Linked DNA regions of Homo sapiens: regions 2 and 3 are each reported to be linked to region 1. The links are microRNA targets in miRTarBase. Many come from high-throughput screens and were not tested one by one. Region 1 holds a microRNA gene; each other region holds the end of a gene's coding sequence.

Region 1 (3,000 bases):
GAATCACCATCACAAGGCCTGAAGTATTTAACTTTAGTTAAATATAATTTTAAACCAGGAAAATCTGCTCATGTATGGGAATTTGTAGTTCTATAAGGATTAGGGAAAACAGAAGGCAGAATACAAGCAATATCTCTCAAGGTTGACCTTGAATTTTAAAAAATTATATATATATATATATATGCAAAATCAGGCAAGATCTTGACACTCCAAAATGGTGTCTGTGGCTCTTAGTGAGGTGGAAGCACAGGGACGTGGGAATAGGTGGGAAGAAGAGAGTCTTTTAAAACCAGCCAGCTGAAATGTTCTTGTCAATAAAGGCATCATTTTACTTCTTCTACTAGGTTAGGATGATTTGAAGGCCTGCATAAACCAAAAGCTGTCACTATAATTCAAGGATAATTGGAACAAATGGCTGCTTAGCACCAGAAAGAGATGGGGCTGAGGAGATGGAATCTTCCAGCCTTTGGGTTGTTCCAGGGAGCATGATCTTCACCTTAAATCCCAGCTGAACAATATCTGTCCCTTTTCCTGTCCCCTCACCAAAACTGGACCTGGAGAAGCCTATGTATTTGTTTGCATGGAATCCTCGCCCTGTGAGCACACACACATCCACTCAGTTCTTTCACGCTTCTCTCTCTTCCCCATTCTTCACACACACAGCTACATCTGTTTCCCTTTTTCCCCCTAAATAAACTTACTCCAGTGTTGAAAATGGATACAAATTGAATCCTACCCACCAAATACTGCATCACATTTTCCCAAAAATGACATGACTTTACCCCAGTGATAAAAGGGAGGTCCTCTTTGCTACCATTAAAATATATCTTTTACTTAATTCCCTGCCCTCTCCTCACCAAGAAAACTCAGTAAGGAACTGCAGGGACCTTAAAGACCATCCAGACTTTGGCTGTGCAGAGTGTGTTCTGGGGACCCACACCATCAGTTTGCCCAGGAGCACATGGGAAGAGAAGAATCCCCAGCCCCACTGAAAACCACAGGACTGGAGTCTGCATTTTAGCAAGATCCTATGTGATTCCTGTGCACATTCCAGTTTGAGAGACATGTGTCTAGGGAGCATGTCTCACCTACTTCATGTGAGAGTTACCTGGGGAGCTTTTACAGCCACCCAAGCCTCACCTGAGACCAAATTAATCCACATTCTCTAGATGGCTATGTGTGTTAAAAGCTCCCTGGGGTGGGGGTGGGGGGTTCTGTGTATGGCCAGAGTTGAGTGGCACTGCTCCTGTCCAACTGGCTCATTGTGCAGACAGCCTGAGTAGCCCAAGGTCATGACATAAGCCAGTGGCAGGGCTGAATTTAAAGGCACAAAGCAGTGCGCCCCAGAGTCACGCGGGTGGACTCTGACAGTGATAGTGTCCATTTCCCACATCTGCCAGGAGTGTGGCTCTTTGTGGGCTGAGTCACCTGCGGGGAAGGGTTTCAGGTTAGAATGTTCATAGGGTGTCACCCAAATCACTGTTTTTAAGCCCTTCTCTACTCCCAAAGAAGTCATTTAATTTGGCCTGGAGGATAGCATCAAAAAACTATGTAACCAATGATATTTCTGCTTGACCTGCCAAATGTGTATTAAATGCATCCATATTTGCCTCCCCCCTCAGCCATCTTCCCCTTTTCCCCTGACTCCAGTTTATAGGAAAAGCAGCCAGCACATACCCCCCTGACAGAAGTCTATGAAAATCCAACTGAGAGGGATTAAAAGGCAGACAGGGCGTATTCCATTTCCTTGAGGCCCTGGGAAAATGTCACATCCGAGGCTGAGCCAGTCCTGATGAGAAAGCCTCGTTGCTGCCAGCTGGGAGGGTTCAAGGTTTGCCAAGCACTGAAGACACTGTTTATGAAAAGCTTTAAATGTCAAGTACCCTGGCTCCTTAGGGTCCTCCCACAAGATAACGCAGTCTCTTGTCAAGCACAGACTCGCCCGAAAAATGAGACCTGAGAAAGGGGCAAGGCTGAGGCATCTGTTCAAAGACAAGCTTCTCAGAGGCCCTGGCTTCTTATGTGGAGGAAAACTTATCTCCCCGTTTTGCAGGAGTTAAGAAGGGCAAAAGAGAATGACAGTGCAGGGAGAGAAAGCGGGAAATCAGAAGAGAAAGGAGAAGGGAGAGAAGAAAGTGAGAGAATGCAGGAAGAGAGAAATGTGCAGATACTAAAAATAAATTCAAAGGCCCTGCTTTTCAACCTCCTCAGTTTTCATATCACAGAAAAGCAGCTAAATCTTCTGAGAAAGCTCAAATGCAAGGACTAAGAATGGGAAAGCAGAGAGAGGGAGGAGAAGTCCTTTCATCAAAATACTTAGGAATCTCAGTGCGTGGTCACTTGGCTGCCACAGGAGGGGTCTGGGTGGTCCTAAGAGGGAGAGGGACTCCTTCCAGGCTCCCCCCAGGACCCACCCTCCCCTCACCAGCAGCCCACCCTCCTAACCCGACAGGGAGGAAACCTGCTCAGTGCTGCTATTTACAATTTCCATTCAGGCAATCTTCACATTTTGGAATGGCATTTGCCAAGGGAGACGATCTCAGCTCCTCTTCTATTTTCAGGTTCCCTCTTGCATAGCGGATGGCATCAGTACTAAGCTCCAAGAAGCAATTTAGAAGAGTGGTTGCTGGAAAGTGGGGGAACCCATGCCAATCTACAGACCTGCAGAGCCTGGGGATGAAGCTTTTATTTTTAACACTGGGATCTGTGAGGCTGACCTATATTTCACTTCTTATATCGGCAGAAGTGACAAGCCTCGAAGGCCAGGGCACAGAGCTGAGCCTCAGGAGTCTGAGGCTTTGAACACTTCACTCAGAGGAACAGAAGCAACAAGACACCAAGCCCACCATGGACAGAGACAGCCGCTAAAACAGAAGGTGCCAAAGTGCCTAGGCTAAGGTTGCAGGGTGCACTCAGTAGACCAGATGGGAAGAACTTGATGTCAGTTTTACCTTCAGAACTTGGAAAGTCTATAGCCAGACCAAACTATGCAGCTAACAA
Region 2 (3,355 bases), not on the chromosome of region 1:
ATGAACCCGGGAGGCGGAGCTTGCAGTGAGCCGAGATTGCGCCACTGCACTCCAGCCTGGGCAACAGAGTGAGACTCCATCTCAAAAATAAAAAAAGAAATTATGAATAGGTAAATTCATATCATTAAAAATTCATTTAAATTCACTTAGAATATTTATCTTTCCAAAACTGTATAAAAGATTGATATAATTTTGGCTCACAATGTAGTTCACATAAGTAATGTATATTTCTCTGTCTCTTTACAGTAAATTGTTGAAGACTACTTCACAATTTCCACTTCCTCTGGCTGTTGGTGTGATTGCTTTTGGGTCAGCACATTTATATAGGCTTCCATGCTTTGTCTTCATTCCTCTTTTACTCCATGCATTATGCAACTTTATGTAAGATTGGACTTAAGGAATGATGAAGATAATTTATGTGTTTAGGGCCAGTGATAAGAGGGAACACACAGATCCATCAGTATGGACAGCAAGATCCTTTGGAGAAGACAAGTCTATTTTTACAATATTGAAAATAGGAAATTAGTTTTGTAATGTTTGAGGGAAGTAGTTGAAGCATGGTTTTGTTTTGTGGTGTGGAATCCATGTAGTAATCATTTTTGAAAAATTCATGAAGGGATATATGGTGATCACTATCATTGAGGACTCCTGTGCATATAAAATAGTCTGTTTTATCAACTGTACGAGAAGTCTGATATGAGAGATTTAGTAGATGCAGCATTATTTGCAGTCTCACTGCAAGCATTCTGCTCATTTCATCAAACTTTTTTTCACAAAAGTAGGTTATTTTGAATTTGCTATAGTTTACCTATTAAGAAATAAGTCTTTAAATAACTGATGAAATTTATAGCTGTTTGGTTTCTCAAAGGTTAAATAGCCACAGAAAGCCTTTGGTTAGTTTTTGGCAGCCACCATGAACAAAGTGGATCTTGTCTTCTTACATCTATGAAAATAGAGCTTTGAATGGTAAGGAGATATGTTTTCTTGGTAACCAATGCAAGATTGATGGGTGGAAACATGATTCAAACTTACACAATTTTTCTTGCTATTTTTCAAATATGAATCTTACTATATATTCTCGGTGAACATCAGGAGACTATTAAAGAGGTCTGCTGTTAAATGTAAAGAAAAAATGCTCGTAGCTATTTGCTTCCTGGTATTGGAGCAGTTCAGTTGTTTAGTTTATACCATTGGATTCAATTCATTGCACCATGGTTGCCAAAAGTGCCTGAGGTCATAATGGATTGTTAAAATAACTAAATTCCAGTGGTTGGAAACTCTAGGTTTGTACCATTTTTTCTGCTGTGGGAAAAAACAACAACAACAACATGATCAAGGTAACATCACATTTGATGTATAATATTATACTATTAATGGAATATCAGTAGACAACTGTTAACCCATTAGTAGCATGAGTATAAACAGTACACCTGAATAAATTGGAGACATTAGCCACTAGGTTTAACAGTGGAATCTTGATTTGCCTAGGTGACTTCTGGGATTACTGTTTGACAAATAAGAGTAACATTTTATTTCATTTCAGAATTTACGTCACTTTTAGCTACAAGAGTAGGAAGAAGGTAATCGGCAAGGCAGAAGAGTATACTCTTTGCCTTAGGATAGCGTAAACTCAGGCTGAGACATACCCGGCTTATAGAGTTCTTCTAGATGTGTAGACTGTAAATGCCCAAATCCTCTCAACTAAAGTTTTAGTGATTCCACAAAGCCTCTCATGTAAATTTCCAGTGATTCCACCATTGCACTTGTGAATATGTATCCTTGTTAGTACCCAGGGATGTCCTCGAGCACCAGTTTTATTTTATCTGCCATTGCATCTGGATTCCATTACAGCCTCTCAGCTGTTACTGCCTGTGGACAGTTACTTCTGCTTACTGCCTGTAGAGAGTTACCTAACTTCTCTTCTCAGTTCTTCCTCAGGTCCTGGCTATTTTGGCCTCAGTTGAAGGGAGTCTTGCTCTCATCTCTGAGGGTTTTAAGTTTGTTTGATCCCATTGTTGTCTTTTCTAGCTTTGAGCATGTTTTTCAGTATTCATATTTTAACTTACTGAGAACATTAAAGGGAAATGATAAACTCGTGGTGGGGATATGGCAGACAGGTGCTTGTTTGTTTGAGAGAAGTAGCAGAAGAGATAAAATACAAAGTGCTATATGTTTCAGCTGGAGAGGAAAGAGAGAGAATTTATTAGATTATATACTTGTCCCATGGCATACCACGTATATGTTTAAATAGGGACACATCTCCCTATGTTTAACTATACTTATAAACAACTTTGATACACATTGCGTCTTTTATTCTGTCACCTGATATTTTAGTGTATCTCAAGTTACAGATTACATGTGTCCTTAAACTATTTCTGAATTTGGACTTAGTTCCATATACAGAAAGAACTTTAGAAAATTCATTAATTTGGATCTTCTATTGATAGCCATAAATATTATGTTTATGTATTCTAAAACCTCTTTGTTTAGTTAGTACTGTTCATGAATGTAACAAGCTTCAATTTCTCATTTGTGAGTAGTACATTTGCTTTTTGTTTGTTTGTTTGTTTGTTTTTGAGATGGAGTCTCACGCTGTCACCAGGCTGGAGTGCAGTGGCGCGATTTCAGCTCACTGCAACCTCCACCTCCCAGGTGCAAGTGATGCCCCTGCCTCAGCCTCCCGAGTAGCTGGGACTACAGACACCCGCCACCACACCTGGCTAATTTTTGTATTTTTAGTAGAGACGGGGTTTCACCATGTTGGCTAGGCTGGTCTCAAACTCTTGACCTCGTGATTTGCCCGCCTCTGCCTCCCCAAAGTGCTGGGATTACAGGCGTGAGCCACCACGCCCAGCCGTACATTTACTTTTTAAAGCAGCAGACTAGGTACACTAATTCTCACTCAAATATTTTCATGGGAATGTAGTTATCACCAAGTCCTAAAGTATTATTTATGCCAAAAAAAATTTCATTTTAAGGACTACAAAAATGATTCTAATTAAACATTTTATAATCAATAGTAGGTTGGGTCTTTAGCCATTATATGTGTATATATACAGACACATATGTATACACTTACATTTTGACAGGGTCTTCATTGAGTCTTGATGCACTTTAAACCCAGCTGGCTACCAGAGATGCGAAGGTGGGCTCTTTGAAGATTAGCAAAATGGACGTTTCTGTCACTTGAGAAAAGGAAAGTTCTTTGCCTTTAAATTACACAGTTTTCATCATGCCCACAATCTATATTATTGGCTGGTTAAACAGCACTGCCCTATTAGCAATGTTAACAAAAATGAAATTATTTATTGGCGGTTATAGATTATCTAATTCAGGAAATTTCTGAGCTCAACTT
Region 3 (3,355 bases), not on the chromosome of region 1:
TCTCTCCCAGGTGGGCCAAGGAATGCTGGATATGTGCTAGGCTTTAAACCTAATCCAAATCGAGGTGTGGGTCCATAGGCAACAATAGTTCCTGTTCTGCACCCCCTCAGTAGCCTGTGAGGACTGGACTAGTTTTGTATTTTCTGAAACTTTAGAGAACATCTCTCTATCTTCCTGTTCTAGGATTGATACTGCCAAATGGAAACATTAACTGGAACTGCCCATGCCTTGGGGGAATGGCCAGCGGTCCCTGTGGAGAACAGTTTAAGTCAGCCTTTTCCTGCTTCCACTATAGCACGGAGGAGATCAAGGGGTCAGACTGTGTAGACCAGTTCCGGGCCATGCAGGAATGCATGCAGAAATACCCAGACCTCTATCCCCAAGAGGATGAGGATGAGGAAGAGGAAAGAGAGAAGAAGCCAGCAGAACAAGCAGAAGAAACAGCTCCCATTGAGGCCACTGCAACCAAAGAAGAGGAGGGATCAAGTTAATGAAGGCCACAAGGCACTGGGCACCAGTCCTTTTGGAGTGGACCTTTTGCAAAAGGCCTTGTCATCACCTTCCAAGAAAGTTTCCTTCTGTTGTCCTGTGCATTATAATATACAAAATAACTTATTTTGATGATCAGAGGTCTTGAGGTCTTGACATCTTGACATATACACTGAAAAAAATGGGGGTTGTATGTATGTGTGTCCTACCCAAACCTGTGGCCGCCACTTTTGAATTCTCAGATTGCCCTGAATTTTGCCACTTTTAAATAATGTGCTGAATAAGCTCAGCAACTAAAAACCATTACCCAAGAACGTTTCTTGTGAGTGAGCTGATTTATTCTGATTCATTATATTCCTTTTGGTAGATTTTATACCCCTTGGGGAAATAATACAACAAAAACATCTCTTAAAAATGCTGGGATGGGGCCATATCTACTAGCAGAGGCCAGATGGTCAGATATGATTTCTGCAAACCCATCTTGACCTTGAGTATGTGAAGGGGTACTGTACTTTATTCCTGATACATTTTGGTTTCCATGTAGGTGTTGAGCTCCTGGTTTTCTGTGTTTGGATGATGAAGATTTGGACCCTTCCATTCATAATCCCTTTCTAAGTGAAGGGAGAGGCTGGCTTGGCTGTTCCTTGTTATTCCGAAAGCCCTGGTTTGGGGCCCATGTTCACACTGGCTCTCAGTCTAGTCAGGTGCAATGTTCTTGAGAGGTGGGGACCTAATTATTACCAGAGTAGCAGCAAGAGAGGAAACGTTGTGAATTAAGTATTCAATTAAAAGGAAACATGATTTCTACCTGATTTTGAATGTGTCCTTTGTTTTCACTAGTTAAAAATGTTTTCTATATAAAAAAGTATAAATTATGAACAATTCAATTGAAATTCCTCTTGAAAGATATTGGTAAACCAATTTGAGTCCGTTAAAATTTTCTGTGTTGAGTTCAAAGGAAGCTTACTTATTTTATATGTGAGCAGATGCCTTCACACAGACATTACAGTTAGTCTATGAGGTGGGGAAGGCTCTTCCTGTTTGAAAATAGATTAACTTGCCTAAGGTAACTGCTAGACAGTTTTCAGGCTGTGGCATAGTAATGCCTCATTTGTCTCAAATGTGTTAAGTTATTTATGTAAAAAATTGCCTTAAAACTTAATAGCTTGAAACGAGGAATCTGGGCATGGCTTACCTGGGTTCTCTGGCTCAGTGTCTCATGAGGCTATGATACTTGTAGTCATCTCAAGGTGGGACAGGCCTTTCAAGATCGCTCGAAGTGGTTTCTGGGAGGGTTCAGTGGGTTGAATCTTGTGGGCTGTGGATTGAGGGCCTCAGTGCCTTACTGGCTGTTGGCCAGACACCTCCTTCAGTTCCTTGCCACATGGCCTTTGCCTTAAAGGGTCAGCTCACAACATGGGAGGTGGCTTCCATCAGAGCAAGCGAGAGAGCAAGATGGATGCCAGAGCCTTTTCATCACCTAATCTCAAAACGGACATTCCATAACTTTACCATAGTCTATTTGTTTGTTAGAAGTGAGACACAGCCCACACTCAAGGAGAGGGACACAAGAATACGAGTAACAGGAAGCTGCCTGCCACACTGGAGAATGAGGCGCCACCATGTTAAAGCTTGAAGGCATGGTTAAAATGCAAGGATTTGTGGTTGGGAGGTGTATGGAGGTAGAGAACTGCTTTCTATATCCAGAGCTTTTTTAAACCTTGCTTGATTAGGAGCTAAGAACCTGGAGCTGGCCAAGCATGGAAGGCATGACAGACCCTAACGACTTCTTTTAACAGAGTTTTGCACATTTAAAAACGATATTTCTTTTGTTAAAATTTTGGTCACAATCAAGGTGTTACTGTTTTGTGACCATGTCATGTACCCCATTTATTTGATGCATTCATGGAATCTACAGTTCCAAGCCCTAGGGACATAGAGTGATTCATTCATGGTACTGCCCATGAAGCTACAATCTAGCCAGGAAGTCAACATTTACTAGAAAGCAGAAAGGAATGGATGAGTGTTACATAATGGTGCTGGATTTTCAGGGCTGGGTTCTTCCAGCCATGGTAACTTACAGCAGAGATTCTCGAACTGTCTGCCCAACTCGACTTGGGTTAGGCAAAAGGTTCCATCCTTTTCCACTTATCACTGGAAAAACAAATTGGTGATAAGGAATTGGCACCGTATAAGCAATTGGAAGTGGGTGGAGATTATGCTTTACTACAAGGGGTTTGGATAATTCATATTTAAGTTGCTGTGTATCTTTAAATGTAAGAACACCAATAGATCAAAGAGTTAATGATTCAGATAAATGCAAGTTGATGATTTTTAAAGAACAGCAATAATTGAAACAAAGGGCTGCTCAAAATAACACTGATTTGGAAATGCAATTACCAACACAATGTTTTATGTCTGTTTTGTTTTGTTGTGTTGTGTTTTAAGAGAGTTTCGCTGTGTTGTCCAGGCTGGAGTGCAGTGGCATAATCATGGCTCACTGCAGGCTCAACCTCCTGGGCTCAAGCGATCCTCCTGCCTTAGCCTACCAAAGCGCTGGAATGCTCAGCCTGTTTTGTATTTTTGTGTTATAGGCAAGTGCAGCATATCAGCCAAGCTTCTTAATAGAACACTACATTCTAGTCCTTAGTTCTAGGACTGTACAGATTTTAACATGTATTTATTTTAGAAACAGGGTCTCGCTCTGTTGCCTAGGCTGGAGTGCAGTGGCACAATCATAGCTCACTGCAGCCCTGGACTCCTGGGCTCAAACGATTCTCCCACCTCAGCCTCCCAAGTAGCTGAGACTATAGGCGTGCTCCACCATGACTGGCTAAGTTTTTATTTTTGTAGAGATGGGGTCTCA

What was found. The annotated mature microRNA hsa-miR-575 reads GAGCCAGUUGGACAGGAGC and lies in region 1 at 1,243-1,261, opposite strand. An mRNA with a match to its seed (bases 2 to 7 or 8) in the 3' UTR can be bound and repressed. Matches are read on the target gene's strand: a 7mer-m8 pairs with bases 2 to 8, a 7mer-A1 pairs with bases 2 to 7 and ends in A, and an 8mer does both.
Region 2: miRTarBase lists PGAP1 as a target of hsa-miR-575. Seed matches in the 3' UTR shown: 7mer-A1 at 1,942-1,948, 7mer-A1 at 2,717-2,723 and 7mer-A1 at 3,125-3,131.
Region 3: miRTarBase lists CHCHD4 as a target of hsa-miR-575. Seed matches in the 3' UTR shown: 7mer-m8 at 1,173-1,179.

What each region holds. Positions count from the first base shown.
Region 1 is chr4:82,752,110-82,755,109 of GRCh38, forward strand. MIR575 (microRNA 575) reads right to left here and starts at 1,321; the gene lies at 1,228-1,321. All of the region lies in intron 1 of SCD5 (stearoyl-CoA desaturase 5), which reads right to left.
Region 2 is chr2:196,838,264-196,841,618 of GRCh38, reverse strand. It overlaps PGAP1 (post-GPI attachment to proteins inositol deacylase 1), which reads left to right. Exons shown (of 27, transcript NM_024989.4): 27 at 247-3,355. The coding sequence ends at 385. Among named protein-coding and RNA genes, the nearest start is that of C2orf66, 31 kb to the right of the region's middle.
Region 3 is chr3:14,110,023-14,113,377 of GRCh38, reverse strand. It overlaps CHCHD4 (coiled-coil-helix-coiled-coil-helix domain containing 4), which reads left to right. Exons shown (of 3, transcript NM_001098502.2): 3 at 184-1,301. The coding sequence ends at 491. Among named protein-coding and RNA genes, the nearest start is that of CHCHD4, 13 kb to the left of the region's middle.